2 separate regions of the Homo sapiens genome follow, and region 1 is linked to region 2. Evidence: fine-mapped expression QTL. Tissue or cell type: whole blood. Region 2 holds a variant in brackets; the other region holds the start of a gene. All regions are shown on one strand. Distances are from middle to middle.

Region 1 (7,213 bases), 33 kb before region 2:
CGGGTGGGTTCAGAGCTCGCACGGCTGCGAACCCGGCGCGCACGACAGTCCCCGTGAACACGTGGCTGCCGCCCCCCAAACAAGGGGGCCGAGTTCCGTCTCCGCGTTCGGGGAGGCGGGGTTAGGTTGGGAGCTGGAAACCCAGCAATGCAGAGACAGAGCAGATAGAAAATCTCCGCCCTACCCTCCGCTACGCGCCGTCTCTCCAAGAAATACTAATTCCACTTCCTCCAAAAATAGGATGCAGAATTGTTCGAATGGCTCCATTCATTCCTGGTGCGGGCCCTTTAAGGGGTGGTGCGCCCCCCGCCCCCTTTCCGCCCGCACTGGCTCGCGGCGCCTTCCCGCCACCAGCGCCCGCTGACTTCCACAACTAAATTTGGACGGAGTGACGTAGGGCAGTCGCGCGGGCCGCTTCCGGTTGCCCATATTAGGACAGGGCCCGTGATCGCCTTAGCGGCCGGCGGCGGGGCTTCCGGGGGGGGGGCGCGGAGGGGCGGGGCTTTGCGCTCCGGCCACGCCCCTCCCCATCCCCGACCCGGGCAGCCGGAGCAGGCTGGAGCCCCAGGCTTCCTGACTCGCATTCCAGCCGGGTGGGGGAAGAGGAGAGTTTCACTTCCTTCCCTCCAGGGGCCAGGAAGGCGTGACGCCAGGAAAGCACCCCGCAGCGGGTAGGGGCGACCTGAGGGCTCCCAGGGACGCCATCTCCCAGAGACGCTGCAGAACGACCCTGCATACACAGGAGACGACCCGCTGAGGCCCCCTTCATCCCATCTCTCCTCTTCCCAATTATTTCCCCCATACAAGGCCCCCTCCCAGGTTATTCCTGACCCCTGCCCCACACTGATCTTCTCAGGCCTTGGGACACCCTCCCGTCCCGCCCTTCCCCCGCACGCTGGGAACTCAAAAGTTATTCCCCCCTAAAATACCCTTCCCAAACTCGTCCCCATTCAACGATGGTGCCAGACTGCGACGACCTGCCGAAGACGCAGGCCGTCCCCACCCCGCTAACCTTACCACGGAGACCCCACAATGATTTCCCCAGCCCAGGCGCTATCTCTGAGACCCCACGCAGCAACTCTGACGCGCAAGGGGGCGACCCTCCGAGGACTCCCTCAGATAACCCGCCCACCCTCCAGGGGAGACCAGGCCCCCTATCACTCAAAAAAAGTGCTTTCCCGAAGCTCCCCAACACACAGCGCCACTGTCACACATAGGGACGACCCTGAGTCCCTCCGCTGATATTCCTGGCCCCTACCCAGACGGAGACCCCACACACAGAGGGCCCCCCTGGAGACCATCCTCAAAGCCACCACCCGCTACCCCCAGGCTCGCACCCAGAAAGACTCCGCGCTTCTGAAGAAACCCACCTCCACGCACTTTCTCAAAGGTGACCTCCCCCCGCTGCTGGCATATCTGGGACCCCCTCACGACCACCTCGCCCCAAGGCGACCTCGAAGTGCCCCCAACTCCGCCACTTCTCAGGAAAGAGATTGGGAGAATGCGGCAGAACTCCCCGGAGGAGCAGGCCCGCTCCTCACCGCGCCCCCGCAGGGAGAAGGGAGGACCACCTCTCCCCCAGACCCTAGCCAAACCTGACACTCGGGACCCTGGGATGGGACGATCTCCCAGGTGCCAGCTCAGGGAGTCCATGAAAAGCTTCAACGAATCGAATGAGCCCCTTCCCCAGCCATAATACCCAGCCGCCAGAGATGAGGGAGGCTATCATTATTTACATTGCCCGTGCCTGGAAGGGAAACTGAAGTTGCGCAGGAACAATCCGAGGAACTGGGCCTTGAACCGAAATTCCGAACTCGGACCCGAATAGGCCCAGACAGAACTCCGACACCGCCCCCTACGGTGCGGCACGAGAGGGCTAAGGGGCGGGGGCATGTGCACCGGAAGCTGCCTCTGCCCACAACCAAGATGGCTGAGGAGAGGGCGGAAGTGTCCGCACGTCGGGCCTCCGAGGCTTCTCTTTCTCCCCTGGCGGTCCGGCTCTCGATGGTGGCGTGACGGGGGCGGGGGTGGCGGCGCGTTCTCCTCGGTTGGGAGGGAACCAGCCCGCGAACCCAGGCCGGGAGGGGGGTTCGGCCTGGGGGGGAAGGGACTGACATGTCTCTCGAAGACCCCTTTTTTGTAGTCCGAGGGTGAGTGACAACGACGGGGGAGGGCGGAGGGTGCTCTGTACCCAAGCCAGCCAGTGCCCGGGTGCCGGCCCCAGCGTGCCCGGCGGGCTGGGCAAGGCCGTCGGGGTGCAGAGTGGGAGGCGCACGCAGGGGTATATAGGGGTCTCCGGAGTCCCCCATGCGTTTGGGTTTGCAGTCGGGGGCAGAGGCAGGCGGGAGGACCGCCTGCCCCCAGCCGCGCCCGCCGTGCCCCTGCCCGCAGCGAGGTGCAGAAGGCGGTGAACACGGCCCGCGGGCTGTACCAGCGCTGGTGCGAGCTCCTGCAGGAAAGCGCGGCGGTCGGACGCGAGGAGCTGGACTGGACGACCAATGAGCTGCGGAATGGCCTGCGCAGCATCGAGTGGGACCTCGAGGACCTGGAAGAGACCATCGATATCCTGGGGCTTTGTGGCAGAGGGTGGCATGGGAGAGCCCATTGCGGTGGCAGCCCACCTTCGGGTAGGGCTGGACCCCTAGGGACGGGGATGATATCTGGCTCCGGCCTTGACCCTTGACTCTCAGCCCACGTATAGTGGAAGCCAACCCAGGCAAGTTCAAGCTCCCAGCCGGGGACCTGCAGGAGAGAAAGGTGTTCGTGGAGCGGATGCGAGAGGCAGTCCAGGTCAGGAAAGGTCCTGCAGGCGGGGAGTGGGGGAAGGTTTGAGTGTGTTTTTTTTTCTTTCTTTCTTTCTTTTTTTTTTTTTTTTTTGAGACAGAGCCTCGCTCTGTCGCCCAGGCTGGAGTACAGTGTTGCAATCTCGGCTCACTGCAACCTCCGCCTCCCAGGCTCAAGCGATTCTTGTGTCTCAGTCTCCTGAGTAGCTGGGACTACAGGTGCCTGCCACGATACCCGGCTAAGTTTTGTGTTTTTAGTAGAGACGGGGTTTCACCATGTTGATCAGGCTGGTCTCGAACTCCTGACCTCAGGTGATCCACCCGGCTTGGTCTCTCAAAGTGCTAGGATTACAGGCGTGAGCCACCGCGCCCAGCCTGAGTGTCTTTCCTCCCTAATGCTGTCCTTACCTCCAGGAAATGAAGGACCATATGGTCAGCCCAACAGCCGTAGCATTTTTGGAGAGGAATAACAGAGAGGTAAGCCTTCCTGACCCACCCTGCCCACCTGAGCCCCTGGGGGTAACCAAGCCAGATCCCTCTGTGCGTGTTCACCTGTCCCTTTTGCGACAGTGCCCGTCCTCTCTGTGGGCAGTTATCTTCTTGCTGTCTACCTGCCTGCACTTTCTCGGTGTGTGCACCTGAACCTCTCTATGTGTATATGTCCGTGGGTTCCTCTCTACTGTGTCCTCTGGGTCTATACTGGTTTCCTGTTGCAGGAGAGGGCTGGGGGCCTGTGTACCTATCTCCTTTCTGCTTCCATGCCATTTGTCCTGTGTGCACCTGTTTCCAGGACGCATGCCTGCCTTTTACTCTTTTTTTTTTCTTTGAGACAGAGTCTTGTTCTGTTGCCCAGGCTGGAGTGCAGTGGCTTGATCTCAGCTCACTGCAACCTCTGCCTCCTGGGTTCAAGCGATTCTCCTGCCTCAGCCTCCCAAGTAGCTGGGATTACAGGTGCTCGTCACCATGCCAGGGTAACTTCTGTATTTTTTTTTTTTTTTTTTTGAGATGGAGTTTCACTCTTGTTGCCCAGGCTGGAGTGCAATGGTGCAATCTCGGCTCACCGCAATCTCCGCCTCCTGGGTTCAAACAATTCTCCTGCCTCAGCCTCCCGAGTAGCTGGGATTATAGGCATACGCCACCATGCCTGGCTAATTTTGTATTTTTAGTAGAGACGGGGTTTCTCCATGTTGGTCAGGCTGATCTTGAACTCCCAACCTCAGGTGATCCACCTGCCTCAGCCTCCCAAAGTGCTGGAATTACAGGCATGAGCCACTGCGCCTGGCCTAATTTTTGTATTTTTAATAGGGTTTTGTCATGTTGGTCAGTCTGGTCTCAAACCCCTCACATCAACTGATCTGCCTGCCTCAGCCTTCCAAAGTGCTGGGATTACAGGCGTGAGCCATCGCACATAACTTCCTTTTTTTTTTTTTTTTTTTTTTTTTTGAGATGCAGTCTCACTCTGTTGCCAGGCTGGAGTGCAGTGGCGCAGTCTCGGCTCACTGCAACCTCCGCCTCCTGGGCTCAACGATTCTCCAGCCTCAGCCTCCTGAGTAGCTGTAATACAGGCACATGCCACCACACCCGGCTAATTTTTTTTTTTTTTTTTTTTTTTGAGACGGAGTGTTGCTCTGTCGCCCAGGCTGGAGTGCAGTGACGTGATCTCGGCTCACTGCAGCCTCCGCCTCCCGGGTTCAAGCAATTCTGTCTCAGCCTCCCGAGTAGCTGGGATTACAGGCACCCACCACCATGCGTGGCTAAATTTTGTATTTCTAGTAGAGACGGGGCTTCAACATCTTGGCCAGGCTGGTCTTGAACTCTTGACCTCGTGATCCACCTGCCTCGGCCTCCCAAAGTGCTGGGATTACAGGTGTGAGCCACCACGCCCGGCCAATTTTTGTATTTTTAGTAGAGACGGAGTTTCATCATGTTGGCCAGGATGGTCTTGATCTCCTGACCTTGTGATCCACTAGCTTCAGCCTCCCAAAATGCTGAGATTACAGGCGTGAGCCACCGCGCCCGGCCAGCTTCCTTTTTTTTTTTTGAGATGGAGTCTTGGCATGTTGCCCAGGCTGGGGTGCAGTGGTGCAATCTTGACTCACTGAAACCTCCACCTTCCGGGTTCAAGCAATTCTCCTGCCTCAGCCTCCTGGGTAGCTGGGACAACAGGAGTGTGCCACCATGCCCAGCTAATTTTTGTGTTTTTAGTAGAGACAGGGTTTCCCCATGTTGGCCAGGCTGGTCTCAAACTCCCTACCTCAGGTGATCCGCCCCCGCCTTTTCATCTGTGCATGCACCTAACCTATTTGGGTGCGTGCACTTGGCCTCTGAGTGTATCTGCATTTTCCCCCCTCATATCCTAATATCTGCTAGTTTCCTCTGTAATGTGCCTGCCGTGTGTGTGTGTGTGTGTGTGTGTGTGTGTGTGTTTCTGTGTTTCTCCCAACCACCTCTGTCAGTCCACTTTTTCTCTTGGTGTTCTCTGTTGATATTTTTCATATGTTGAGAACCACCAGCCTTTCTCTCTCCCTCATAAGCGTACGTGGGGTCGGGGAGGGTGGGGGACTGAGGCTCCTCCCAGTTTGTCATCCCATAGCAGTGCCCACGTGCCTTCCAGATGTGCTGCCTTGGGGGAATTCAAGTCCAAACTCTAAAATACATCTGTTGGAGCCGGGCACGGTGGCTCACACCTAAAATCTCAGCACTTTGGGAGGCCCAGGCAAGTGGATCACCTGAGGTCAGGCGTTCGAGACCAGCCTGGCCAACATGATGAAACCCTGTCTCTACAAAAAATACAAAAATTAGCCAGGCGTGGTGGTGATCACCTGTAATCTCAGATACTTGGGAAGCTGAGGCAGGAGAATTGCTTGAACCCGGGAGGTGGAGGTTGCAGTGAGGCGAGATCACACCACTGCACTCCAGCCTAGGTGACAGAGCAAGACTCTGTCTCAGACAAACAAACAAACATCTGTTGGGCCAGGCATGGTAGCTCACGCCTGTAATCCCAGCACTTTGGGAGGCTGAGGCAGGTGGATCACTTGAGGTCAGGAGTTCGAGACCAGCCTGGCCAACATGGGGAAACCCTATCACTAGTAAAAATACAAAAATTAGCTGGATGTGGTGGCAGGTGCCTGTAATCCCAGCTAAAATCCCCCCAAAAATAAACAAATAGTAAAATGTGACATTTACTAGCATTACTATGTGTTGGGCACTGCTGTAAGTGTCCCCCATCAATTAATTCTTTAAATCCTCATTTCAACCCAGGAAACACGGATTCTAGCTCTTCCCATTTTATTTTATTTTTTTTTTTTTTGAGGCAAGGTCACTCTGACACCCAGGCTGGAAATGCAGTGGTGCGATCTCAGCTCACTGCAACCACCGCCCCCCAGGTTCAAGCGATTCTGCTGCCTTAGCCTCACAAGTAGCTGGGATTACAGGCATGCACTGCCACACCCGGTAATTTTTTTTTTTTTTTTTTTTTTTGAGAGAAGGTCTTAACCTGTCACCCAGGCTGGAGTGCAGTGGTGTGATCTCGGCTCACTGCAACCTCAGCCTCCCAGGTTCAAGTGATTCTGACCTGCCTCAGCCTCCCTAGTAGCTGGGATTACAGGCACCCGCCACCAAGCCTGGCTAATTTTTGTATTTTTAGTAGAGACGGGATTTCACCATGTTGGCCAGGCTGCTCTCAAACTCTTGACCTCGTGATCCATCTACCTCGGCCTCCCAAAGTGCTGGGATTACAGGTGTGAGCCACTGTGCCCGGCCCAATTTTTGTATTTTTAGTAGAGATGGGGTTTCACCATGTTGGCCAGGCTGGTCTCGAGCTCCTGACCTCAAGTTATCTGCCCACCTCCACCTCCCAGAGTGCTGGGATTACAAGCATGAGCTACCATGCCCCATCCTGCTCTCTGCATTTTACAGATGAGGAAACTGAGGCACAAGGAAGCCAAATGATGGGGTCTCTGGGTCACCTTGCTAGTAAGTGGTGAGTGGGGAATGCAGGCTGTCCTGCCCCAGAGTCTGCCCCCCTGACTTACCACCGTGGGGATTTGCCCCACAGGCCCCGCTGTGAGTTGGGGTCTCTCCCTGAGCCTATGTTGTGTGCCCCTGCAGATACTCGCAGGCAAGCCAGCTGCCCAGAAGTCACCCAGCGACCTGCTGGATGCCAGCGCAGTCTCGGCCACATCTCGCTACATCGAGGAGCAGCAGGCCACACAGCAGGTTTTGGGGCCAGCGGGGTGGATCTTGGGAGGGGAGAGCCTTGCAGACTGATCTGAGGTCTGGGGTCCCTTTTTGTTGTTGTTGTTGTTGATATGGAGTTTCGCTTTGTCGCCCAGGCTGGAGTGCAGTGGCGCGATCTCAGCTCACTGCAACCTCCGCCTCCCAGGTTCCAGTGATTCTCCTGCCTCAGCCTCCCTAGTAGCTGGGATTAC
Region 2 (10,291 bases):
CCTTAGCTAACATTATTATTCAGATCTTAGCTCTCCGGGAACACTTCCGGCCACCCATCGAAACCTCCCCATCCCCTCATGGCTCATAATGACTTCACTTTGCTACACCATCTTTGTAAACACAGAAGTATGTGAAATTATCTTGATCCTTTGCTTGTGAAAGTTTGGTCGCTTGAGAGCTAGCTGCTCTGGATCTGTTACTCCGGGATGCTTCCCCAGCCCCCAGCGGGGAGTCAGCACCCAGCAGTGAAATAAAACTGTCTCAACGGGCTGCCTACTTGTTGCACTTGCCCCCACAGAGTCTGTGCATGCTAAGTTCTCACCGAAAAGCAGTTATTACTGGTGCCTTCTCCTCTACCTCTAGGCACAAACCGGAGCTGCCTGAGGCACTGCCTGTCCCCCACTCACCAGGGCCAACTCCCAACAGTCTCAGCTAAGTGACTGGATGGTACCACCAATCCCCTATCCCTGGTATCCAACCCAGCTTAGGTCCAGGAGGACCCAGTCTGTGCTGAAGCAGACCTGCAGCAATCCTGGCCCAACCAGCCAGGAAGGATGGTTCAGTCTCTTTGCGGGACTGCTGGCCCAGTTCCTACTCCTCCTAGAACCAAGTGGCTAGCCAGACAGGCAAGAAGGGCAGGGCCCAGGTTGGAGGGTGTCCTGGGAACTATAGGGAGACTGGGGAGAATTAGGGTGACAACCCATCATTAAACCCAGAACTGGCTGACACCACTTGACCCAGCAGTTTGTGGCTCCTGCCTCAGGTGCTGAAGATCCCAAATCAAAGTCCCAAGGACACCCTGGTAACAGCCTTGCAATTAGCCCAGAAAGGAACAAAAGCTGCTGCCATCCGACTGGGGGCCAAAGTGGGGCAAAAACAGTCTAGGCAAGCAAAGTCAAGTCCAGCCCTGGTGGTGCCAGGCCTCCTCAGCTTCCCACGGTCAGCCCACAGTTCCATGACTCCTGACCTCTTGGCTCCCAGGAGGGAAATGGGGAAGAAGGGGTGACCAGGCCTCCGAGAAAGATACCTCCACTGTTCCATTCCCCGGGGACACCATGGAAACTCAGTCTGTCCCAAAGGGGATTGACCCATCCCCCGGGGTGAGCAGAAGGGAAGGCCTGGACGGAGGAGAACGCCCGCCAGGGAATCCAGAACGAGGAGCTCCTTCAGTCACCCTCCTGGAAGGCCACTTGAGTGACTATGGGTTTGGGCTGAGGGTCAGACAATCCCAGTTCAGCCACTGTCTGCTCATGTGATCTGAGACAAGCCACACCACCCCGAGCCTCAGCTTCCTCGTCTGGACCCCAGAGAAGGCCTAAGTTGAACTGGTGGTGGTGAGCCATCAATGAGCTCATCCGACCAGCGAGCTCGGCACAGGGCCTGGCCCAGGACGAGTGTCCCAGAGGTAGATCCCTGGGCCAGGGTGTGAGTGCCTGATTTGATCCCCTTAACTCTTCTCTGTGCCCTGCCTTCACCCCGTCGGGAGCCTCCAAACCACCATCAACAGAGTTTTACATGCTCATTCCCTCTAATTCTTCACCCCCAGGGAGATGGCACACAGAACTCAGGCTCAAGGAGTTGGTGCCTGGGAGGCCATGGTACTAATATATACGATGGTTGCTGTGAGGTCCCATCCACTAGGCTTGAACCACCAGCTTCTGGCCACAAAAGGTAGAGAAAGAATGCAGGATCCTAAAATACCCAGGTAACGTCTGCTGGGCTGCCTCCCTGTAGATATATAAGGTGGGGGTGGGCAAGGGCCACCTTGTGATAAACAAGATGCCTAAGCTAGGTGTTCCAGACTGTCTCCAGCTGCCCACACAAACACCCACTGGCCAGTGCCTTTGAACAGTTGGCAGAGGCTTGCCCAAGGGGTAGGGTCAGGACTCTAGAGGCTTCAGGGATGAGGTGTGAGAAAGACGGAACCCCTTAACACTTGAGTTGGGGGCGGTGGGGGGCGCATCTTAGTATATACCTTCTGGTCACACCAGCTTTTCCTGACCTGCCCCCACATCCCCCCTAGCCTAGCCCAAAAGGCTCTGCTCTCTCGACTCCCAAAACTCCTACAGCAGTCCCTCACCTTACCTGATCGCCCCCACATCTAGCCTCCCCCTCCCCACATCTGAGTCCTGACCTCATGTGACCCCCGGAAAACATCTCTGGGATCTCCTATCCGCCCCCACACGAAGTAACTCCGCCCACACCCGCCGTGCCCCACTTCCTGGGCTTCTCCTCAGCCGCCCCCAGGCCTGTAACTTGACCCACCCACCTCCTCCAGCGCCCAGGCGGTACCTGCAGGCCCGGCCCCTCCCCGCCCCCCTCCGGCCGCGCCGCTCTCCTCTCCTCCCCCACTCGGCCTGGCCGGAGCCCGACTCCTCCTCCCCCTCCCCCTCCCCCTCCGGCATCCACGAGAACCTCCTCACTTTTCCGCCTCGGACCCTCCAACTTCCCCGGATCCCCGGTACCTGCCCCGGCCCGACCTGGCCCCCTCCCTCGCTGGGAGACGGGGGAGCGGTCCAGGTACGATCCTGCCGCCCCCAAGCCCTGAAGCTCGGGCTGGACGCTCAAGGCCGCCCGCGGTAGCTGGGCCTCCACACACTCGCCTGCCCGGGCACAGTGCAGGCTGCGGGCCCGGCTCCTCCTCGGTCCGAGAAAGCACCCAGGCCCTCCCCACTCAGCCCTCGGGCCGCCCCGGCTGGAGGAGGCCGGAACCGGGCCTGAGGCGGGCCGCCTCACCTGCGCCGTGGCCGCGCTCCGGGGGGTCCCGGCGGGCTCCGCAGCGGCGGCTGGGGCCGGGCCTGGGCCCGGGGCGCGCCCCGCTGCGCCGGGGCCTCGGCCTCCGCCTCCGCGGCCTCCGCGGCCTCCGCCTCAGCAGCAGCGGCAGCCGCGGCGGCCATTCATTGTGGGCCAGGCCGCCCCAGCCGAGCGCCGAGCGAGCGCAAGCCGCGCTGCCGCCGCAGCCAGGCCAGGGAGGAGCGGCCCCGGCCCCGCCCGCGCACCGCCCTCGGGCCCCGCCCTCCAGGCGAGGCCAGCCGAGCTCCGAGCGCGCCCCTTCTAACCGGCTCCGTCTCCTCTCTATGCCCCTGGGGGATCCTCGCCAGTACGTCGGCTCAGCTCGATGGTTCGAATCCTGGCCCCGCCACCTTCTAGTCCCGCGACCTTGGGCAAGTCGCTCTACCTTTCCGAACTTTAGTTTCCTGTAAAACAAAAACAATAATGACTGCTGTTTATTGTGGCAGGCACTGCGTTACATTCTTTATGGGAATTAGCTCGTTTAAACTACACAGTAACATTTTTTAGTGAGAACTGCTACAGACACACTATAGAAAATAAAGGCAGCTGGGCGCGGTGTCTCACGCCTGTAATCCCAGCACTTTGGGAGACCGAGGTGGGTGGATCGCCTGAGGTCAGGAGTTCGAAACCAGCCTGGCCAATATGGTGAAACTCTGTCTCTACTAAAAATACAAAAATTAGCCGGGCGTGATGGCATGCGCTTGTAATCCCAGCTACTCGGGAGACTGAGGCAGAAGAATCGCTTGCACCCGGGAGGCGGTGGTTGCAGTGAGCCGAGATCATGCCACTGCACTCCAGCCTGGGCGAGACTCCGTCTCAAAAAAAAAAAAAAAAGAAAGAAAGAAAGAAAAGGAGGCACAGAGAAATGAAGAAAGCTGGTCAAGATCATCACACAGCAAGGAAGTGATGGTAGGTGCCAGGATTTAAACACAGGCTCAAAAGCGACAATAAGACCTAAGACTTTTATGATGCTTACCGGATGCTAGGTTCTGTTAGCATTTTACCTGCACTAACTCGTTTACTTCTCACTACAACCCAGTAACAAATGGTAAAAAAAAGTTCTGCCCATTTTGCAAAAGCGGTAACTTAAGTTCAGAGTTAACAAGTCGCAGGGCGAGCTGAGACTGGAACCCAGGTAGCCGGGACCACTTCGCTGTCCTGCCTTCATACACTGGTTAGAACTTTACCGAGCGCTTACAATGTTAGAGTGGTTCTTTGCACACTTTCCAGGAATCTGTCATTTAATCTTTGCTCTATCTGAGAAACCACGATTCTCATTTAATAGGTAAGAAAAGTGAAGCCGCGGGAGTAACCTGCCCAGAGCATGTGATGGGACTGAGATTCAAACCCGGTAAATCCAACTCCAGAGCCTGAGTCATTCCTGCAGGGTGCTCTGAAATAATGTGTATATAGCACCCAGAACACAGAAGAGGACCAATAAGTGTTGGGTTTCTCCGCTTACCGCCCCTTTTCTGAGCCACAACTTCCTCATCTGTGAAATGGGACTAGGGACGTGTCCTCTCCCAGGGGATCCACTGTGATTAACACCCCCGGAACAGCACGATCAGCGCGCTTCCTTTATGGCTTTCATTTTGATCCCGGCCGCCCACCGTACGTTTCCTCATTGACTGGCCAACCACTATCATGTGATTCGCCCACCCACTGTGCCAACATGGCGGCGCCCAGGTCCTAATTCGGGAAACGTGCACCTTGACTAATTCGGTTTTCTGTGGCTACGAGAGCAGGTGAGGACGGGCTAGGCAGCGCGGGGAGGGATTCGGACTCGGGGCGGGCCTGCACGAGGGCATCGGCTCCACAGGGACCAGTCATCCCCAAAACGAGGGGATATCAGCTTACCGAGGCCGCAGGTTTTCCTAGTCCCTACCTCATAGATATGTAGGACATCCCCGGGCCCGGAATGCGGCTCTCTGACCCTCTCTGTGCCCTCCCCCGCCCCCCGAACCAGGCTTGGCGGGCGGAGGCGCCAGCGGATGTCTCATGCAAGGATCGTCTCTGTGGCTAAGCCTCACTTTCCGCTCCGCCCGGGTGCTCTCTAGAGCCCGGTTTTTCGAGTGGCAGTCTCCAGGGCTGCCGAATACAGCAGCGATGGAGAACGGCACCGGGCCCTACGGAGAAGAACGTCCACGTGAAGTCCAGGAGACGACAGTCACCGAGGGGGCTGCCAAAATCGCCTTTCCCAGTGCCAACGAGGTCTTTTATAACCCGGTGCAGGAATTCAATCGGGACCTGACGTGAGCAGGGGTCAGACGTTAGCCTGGCATCGGCTAGTGGGTCAGTGTGGATGGCGGGG[G/T]CGGGGTATGAGCTAGTCCTCTGTCTCCCACCAGATGTGCTGTGATCACCGAGTTTGCTCGCATTCAGCTTGGGGCCAAAGGAATCCAGAGTGAGTGGAGGTCCAGGCTTCTGGTGGGCGGGGGTCACACAAGTTTATCTCCCTGCCTGGGCTCTTCTGCCGCCCAAATCCAGAGGGGCTTCAGCCACATAGCAGGCCCTGGGTTCTGCTCCTTCAGCCTTTCCGCAGGGATTTCAGGGACGATATTTTGGAGATTAAGGGGAGGTTTCTCAGAGGGGACCTTGTTATTCTCTGACTTGTGCCTCTGGGTGGCTGCAGTCAAGGTTCCAGGAGAGAAGGACACGCAAAAAGTGGTCGTGGACTTGTCAGAGCAAGAGGAGGAAAAGGTTGAACTGAAAGAGAGTGAAAACCTGGCCTCAGGAGACCAACCTCGCACAGCGGCCGTGGGGGAGATCTGTGAGGTGGGGCCTGAGCATAGGAGCTGGCAGCCCTGGAATTTAGCGGGAGACAGAGGGCTCCTGGAGGGGGAGAGCTATAGGAGGTGGGTGGTGGGGGCTCCTTGGGGCCCAGAAGAGGATGGAGGTGGAGATGTGAGGGAGGTTTTCTGCTTACTCCAACAGGAAGGCCTGCATGTGCTGGAAGGCCTGGCAGCTTCAGGCCTACGTTCCATTCGATTTGCCCTAGAGGTGCCTGGGCTCAGATCTGTGGTTGCAAACGATGCCTCCACCCGGGCTGTGGATCTCATACGCCGGAATGTCCAGCTCAATGACGTGGCCCACCTGGTACAGCCGAGCCAAGCAGATGCCCGGTAGGTTCTGGGCATCACAGCCTAGCTCTGGGACAAGCCTGCCTGGGGTCAAATTCTGGCTCTGTCACATTCTCACTCTGTGACCTTGAGTGAGTGACTTAGCCTCTTTGAGCCCCAGTTTCCTTGTCTGTCAACTGAGAAAATTAGTTTTACAGGGGTTGCTGTGATGAGTAATAGATAATTATGGTATGATCCATACTCTGTGCCAGAAATAAGTAGCATCCTGGTCTCTGTTTTAACTTCTTACACTCCTTTTATTCATTCAAATGAGCCATAGTATATCCAGTGTCTGCTATGTGTCAGGCACCGTTTTCAAGAACTGGAAATGCATCAGGAAACAAAACATGCAAAATTGGTGACCTTCGCAAGAGTTGGCAAACTATAGCCTGTGGGGCTCACAGCCTTTTTTTGTTTGTTTGCTTGTTTGTTTGTTTTTTGAGATGTAGTCTCGCCCTTGTTGCCCAGGCTGGAGTGCAGTGGCACGATCTCAGCTCATTGCAACCTCCGCCTCCCGGGTTCAAGCCATTCCCCTGCCTCAGCCTCCCGAGTAGCTGGGATTACAGGCACGTGCCACCACGCCTGGCTAATTTTTATTTTTATTTATTTATTTATTTTTTGACACGGAGTCTCGCTCTGTTGCCCAGGCTAGAGTGCACTAGCGTGATCTTGGCTCACTGCAACCTCCGCCTCCCAGGTTCAAGTGATTCTCCTGCCTTAGCCTCCCGACTGAGTAGCTGGGACTACAGACATCTGCTACCACACCCACCTGTATTTATAGTAGAGATGGGGTTTCACCATGGTGGCCAGGATGGTCTCGATTTCCTGACCTCGTGATCTGCCCGCCTCGGCCTCCCAAAGTGGTGGGATTATAGGCATGAGCCACTGCACCTGGCTATGCCAGGCTAATTTTTATATTTTTAGTAGAGACAGGGTTTTGCCATGTTGGCCAGGCTAGTCTCAAACTCCTGACCTCAAGTGATCTGCCCACCTCGGCCTTCCAAAGTGCTGGGATTACAGACGTGAGCCACTGCGCCCGGCCTAGCCTAGTTTATCAATGGCCCACAACCCAAGAATGTTTTTTACATTTTTAAAGGTTAAAAAAGAAGACTATGCAGTAGGGACCACATATGACTCACAAAGCCTAAAATACCTTCTGACCTTTTACAGAGAAAAAAGTTTTTACTTTTCTGACCTTACTAGAATCCAAATAGTAATCACAGACAATGAAAAGTAATTAGCTGGGCATGGTGACTCATGCCTGTAATCAAGCATTTTGAGAGGCCAAGGCAGGAGGATCGCTTGAGGCCAGGATTTCAAGACCAGCCTAGGCAACACAGTGAAACCCGTCTCTACAAAAATTTTAAAATGAGGTCAGACGCAGTGGCTCACCCCTGTAATCCCAGCACTTTGGAAGGCCGAGGTGGGCGGATCACTTGAGGTCAGGAGCTCGAGACCAGCCTGGCCAACATGGTAAAACCTCGTCTCTACTAAAAATATAAAAATTAGCCAGGCATGGTGGCACGTGCCTGTAATCCCAGCTACTTGGGAAGCTGAGGCAGGAGAATCGCTTGAACCCAGGAGGTGGAAGTTGCAGTGCGCCGAGAACCCACCACTGCACTCCAGCCTGGGTGACACAGCGAGACTCTGTCTCCAAAGAAAGGAAAAAAAAAATGTGTTAATACATCTATAAACTGCTTGAAATGGTGTCAGGCAGATACGTCTTATATCAGTATTGTTGTTGTTTTAGATGTGTGGACTGAGTTCCACATGGTGCTTTTCCTAAGTAGGAAAATTGTGCAGTTTAATAAATGACCAAGGCCAGTGCAGTGGCTCACACTTGTAATCTCAGCACTTTGGGAGGCCGAGGTGGATGGATCACTTGAGGTCAGGAGTTTGAGACCAGCCTGGCCAACATGTTGAAACCCCATCTCTACTAAAAATACAAAAATTAGCTGGGCGTGGTGGCACATGTCTGTAGTCCCAGCTACTCTACTCGGGAGGCTGAGGCGCGAGAATTGCTTGAACTGGGGAAGCGGAGGTTGCAGGGAGCCGAGATCACAACACTGCACTCCAGCTGGCTGACAGAGCAAGACTCCGACTCAAAAATAAAATAAATAAATAAATAAATGACTGAGCCAGGACTTGAACTTGGGAATCTGGCCCCGGAGTTCAGACCCAAACCACTGTGCTGTACGAGTTAATATGTGTAGGGGACAGAGAAGGTACCTGGCGTGGGAGGCTGAGGACCTGGCCCTCTTTGCACCCAGGATGCTGATGTACCAGCACCAGAGGGTGTCGGAGAGGTTTGACGTCATCGATCTGGACCCCTATGGCAGCCCAGCCACCTTCCTGGATGCAGCTGTGCAGGCTGTGAGTGAAGGAGGTGAGGTGGGGATGGCACTGGGGTGGGAGCAGGGCTTGGGGTGTTGGAGGGTTCTCACTGCCCAGCCCCTCTCTGCAGGGTTGCTGTGTGTGACCTGCACAGACATGGCGGTGTTGGCGGGGAACAGCGGGGAGACGTGCTACAGCAAGTACGGGGCCATGGCCCTCAAGAGCCGGGCCTGCCACGAGATGGTGAGGGGCCCTCTGCCAGCCAGCCAGGGAGACCGGGGGACAGGTGGTTGTCTGAGTCCCTTCCCAATACACTTTCCCCCTCCTCAGACCTGCTCAGCTTCCTCCAGGCTGATGGCCAGATGCATCCCAGGCTGTTAACGACAGGCGTGTCTTCAACCCACATAGTTCCTAAGAGCATGGCTGATAATCATGGTCATTTGGGGACAGTGGCTTTGGCCAGGACAGGAGTGCATGGCCACATTATTTTAGTTTTCTGTATTAAAACAACTTTTCAAAAAAAAATTTTTTTTTTAAAGGTCGTTTTTCCAGGACTGGGTTTAAATCCTAGCTTTGCTGGTAGCTCTGGGCAAGTGACTTCACCTTTCTGGTCCTCGGGTTTTTTTGCATCTGTAAAATGGGCACAATGATGGTCTGAAGGCCGGGCGCAGTGGCTCACACCTGTAATCCCAGCACTTTGGGAGGCCTAGGCAGGTGGATCACCTGAGGTCAGGACTTTGAGACCAGCTGGCCAACATGGTAAAACCCCATCTCTACTAAAAATACAAAAATTAGCCAGGCATGGTGGCAGATACCTGTAATCCCGGCTACTCAGGAGGCTGAGGCAGGAGAATCACTTGAACCCAGGAGGCGAGGTTGCAGTGAGCCAAGATCACTCCGCTGCACGCCAGCCTGGGAGGGAGACCCCATCTCAAAAAGAAAAAAAATAGGCCGGGCGTGGTAGCTCACGCCTGTAATCCCAGCACTTTGGGAAGTCGAGGTGGGCGGATCATGAGGTCAGGAGATTGAGACCATCCTGGCTAACATGGTGAAATCTGATCTCCACTAAACATACAAAAACTTAGCCAGGCATGGTAGCGGGCACCTGTAGTCCCAGCTGTTCGGGAGGCGGAGGCAGGAGAATGGCGTGAACCCAGGAGGTGGAGCTTGCAGTGAGCTGAGACTGTGCCACTGCACTCCAGCCTGGGCGACAGAGCAAGACTCTGTCTCAAAAAAAAGAAAAAAAAATAGGCCGGGCGCGGTGGCTCACGCCTGTAATCCCAGCACTCTGGGAGGCCGAGGTGGGCGGTGTTCAAGAGGTCAGGTGTTCAAGAGCACCCTGGCCAACATGGTGAAACCCCGTCTCTACTAAAAATACAAAAAAAAAAAAAAAAAAATTAGCTGGGCGTGGTGGTGGGTGCTTGTAATCCCAGCTATTCGGGAGGCTGAGGCAGGAGAATCACTTGAACCCGGGAGGTGGAGGTTGCGGTGAGCCGAGATGGCACCATTGCACTCCAGCCTGGGCAACAAGAGCAAAACTCTGTCTCAAAAAAAAAAAAAAAAAATGGTCTGACCCTATTGAGTGTCTGATCAGGATTCAAGAAGGCTGAGTGGCGAAGTGCAGCGGCTCATGCCTGTAATCCTAGCACTTTCGGAGGCCAAGGTGGGAGGATCACTTGAGGTCAGGAACCTGGGCAACATAGCGAGGACCCCATCTCTACAAAAAAACCCTAAAAATTACCTAGGTGTGGTGGTGGATGCCTGTGGTCCCAGCTACTCTGGAGGCTGAGGCAGGAGGATCACTTGAGCCTAGGAGTTCAAAGTTATTGTGAGCTTTGATAGTGCCACTGCACTCCAGCGTGGTCCACAGAGGGCTCTTGCCCTTGTTCCTAAAGGGTCCTGTCATGAAGTCAGCCCGGGAAATGCTGTCTCCTTTCCCATATCAGAGTCTCACACTAGCAGGAAAGCCCTAGCCGTTTTGCTTTTTTTTCTTTTTTGAGATGGAGTTTCACTCTTGTTGCCCAGGCTGGAGTGCAGTGGTGAGATC

Evidence for each region. PIP is the estimated chance that this variant, and not a neighbour inherited with it, causes the effect.
Region 1: it holds the start of STX10, and the variant in region 2 is fine-mapped to the expression of STX10 in whole blood (INTERVAL, PIP 0.93).

The regions. Positions count from the first base shown.
Region 1 is chr19:13,145,076-13,152,288 of GRCh38, reverse strand. STX10 (syntaxin 10) reads left to right here and starts at 1,914. Exons shown (of 8, transcript NM_003765.3): 1 at 1,914-2,150; 2 at 2,392-2,561; 3 at 2,696-2,790; 4 at 3,198-3,260; 5 at 6,894-7,001. The coding sequence starts at 2,116. IER2 (immediate early response 2) reads right to left here and starts at 1,878. Exons shown (of 2, transcript NM_004907.3): 1 at 1,737-1,878. RefSeq lists silencers at 244-603, 2,154-2,313, 2,354-2,403 and enhancers at 1,744-1,813, 1,834-2,033.
Region 2 is chr19:13,110,901-13,121,191 of GRCh38, reverse strand. It overlaps TRMT1 (tRNA methyltransferase 1), which reads left to right and starts at 4,452. Exons shown (of 17, transcript NM_001136035.4): 1 at 4,452-4,539; 2 at 4,761-5,046; 3 at 5,140-5,195; 4 at 5,424-5,566; 5 at 5,726-5,913; 6 at 8,181-8,296; 7 at 8,375-8,487. The coding sequence starts at 4,793. NACC1 (nucleus accumbens associated 1) reads right to left here and starts at 2,928. Exons shown (of 6, transcript NM_052876.4): 1 at 2,738-2,928. RefSeq lists enhancers at 881-1,381, 1,382-1,883, 3,159-3,308, 4,269-4,458 and silencers at 2,319-2,368, 2,919-3,118. The variant G/T (reference allele first, on the strand shown) is at 5,106.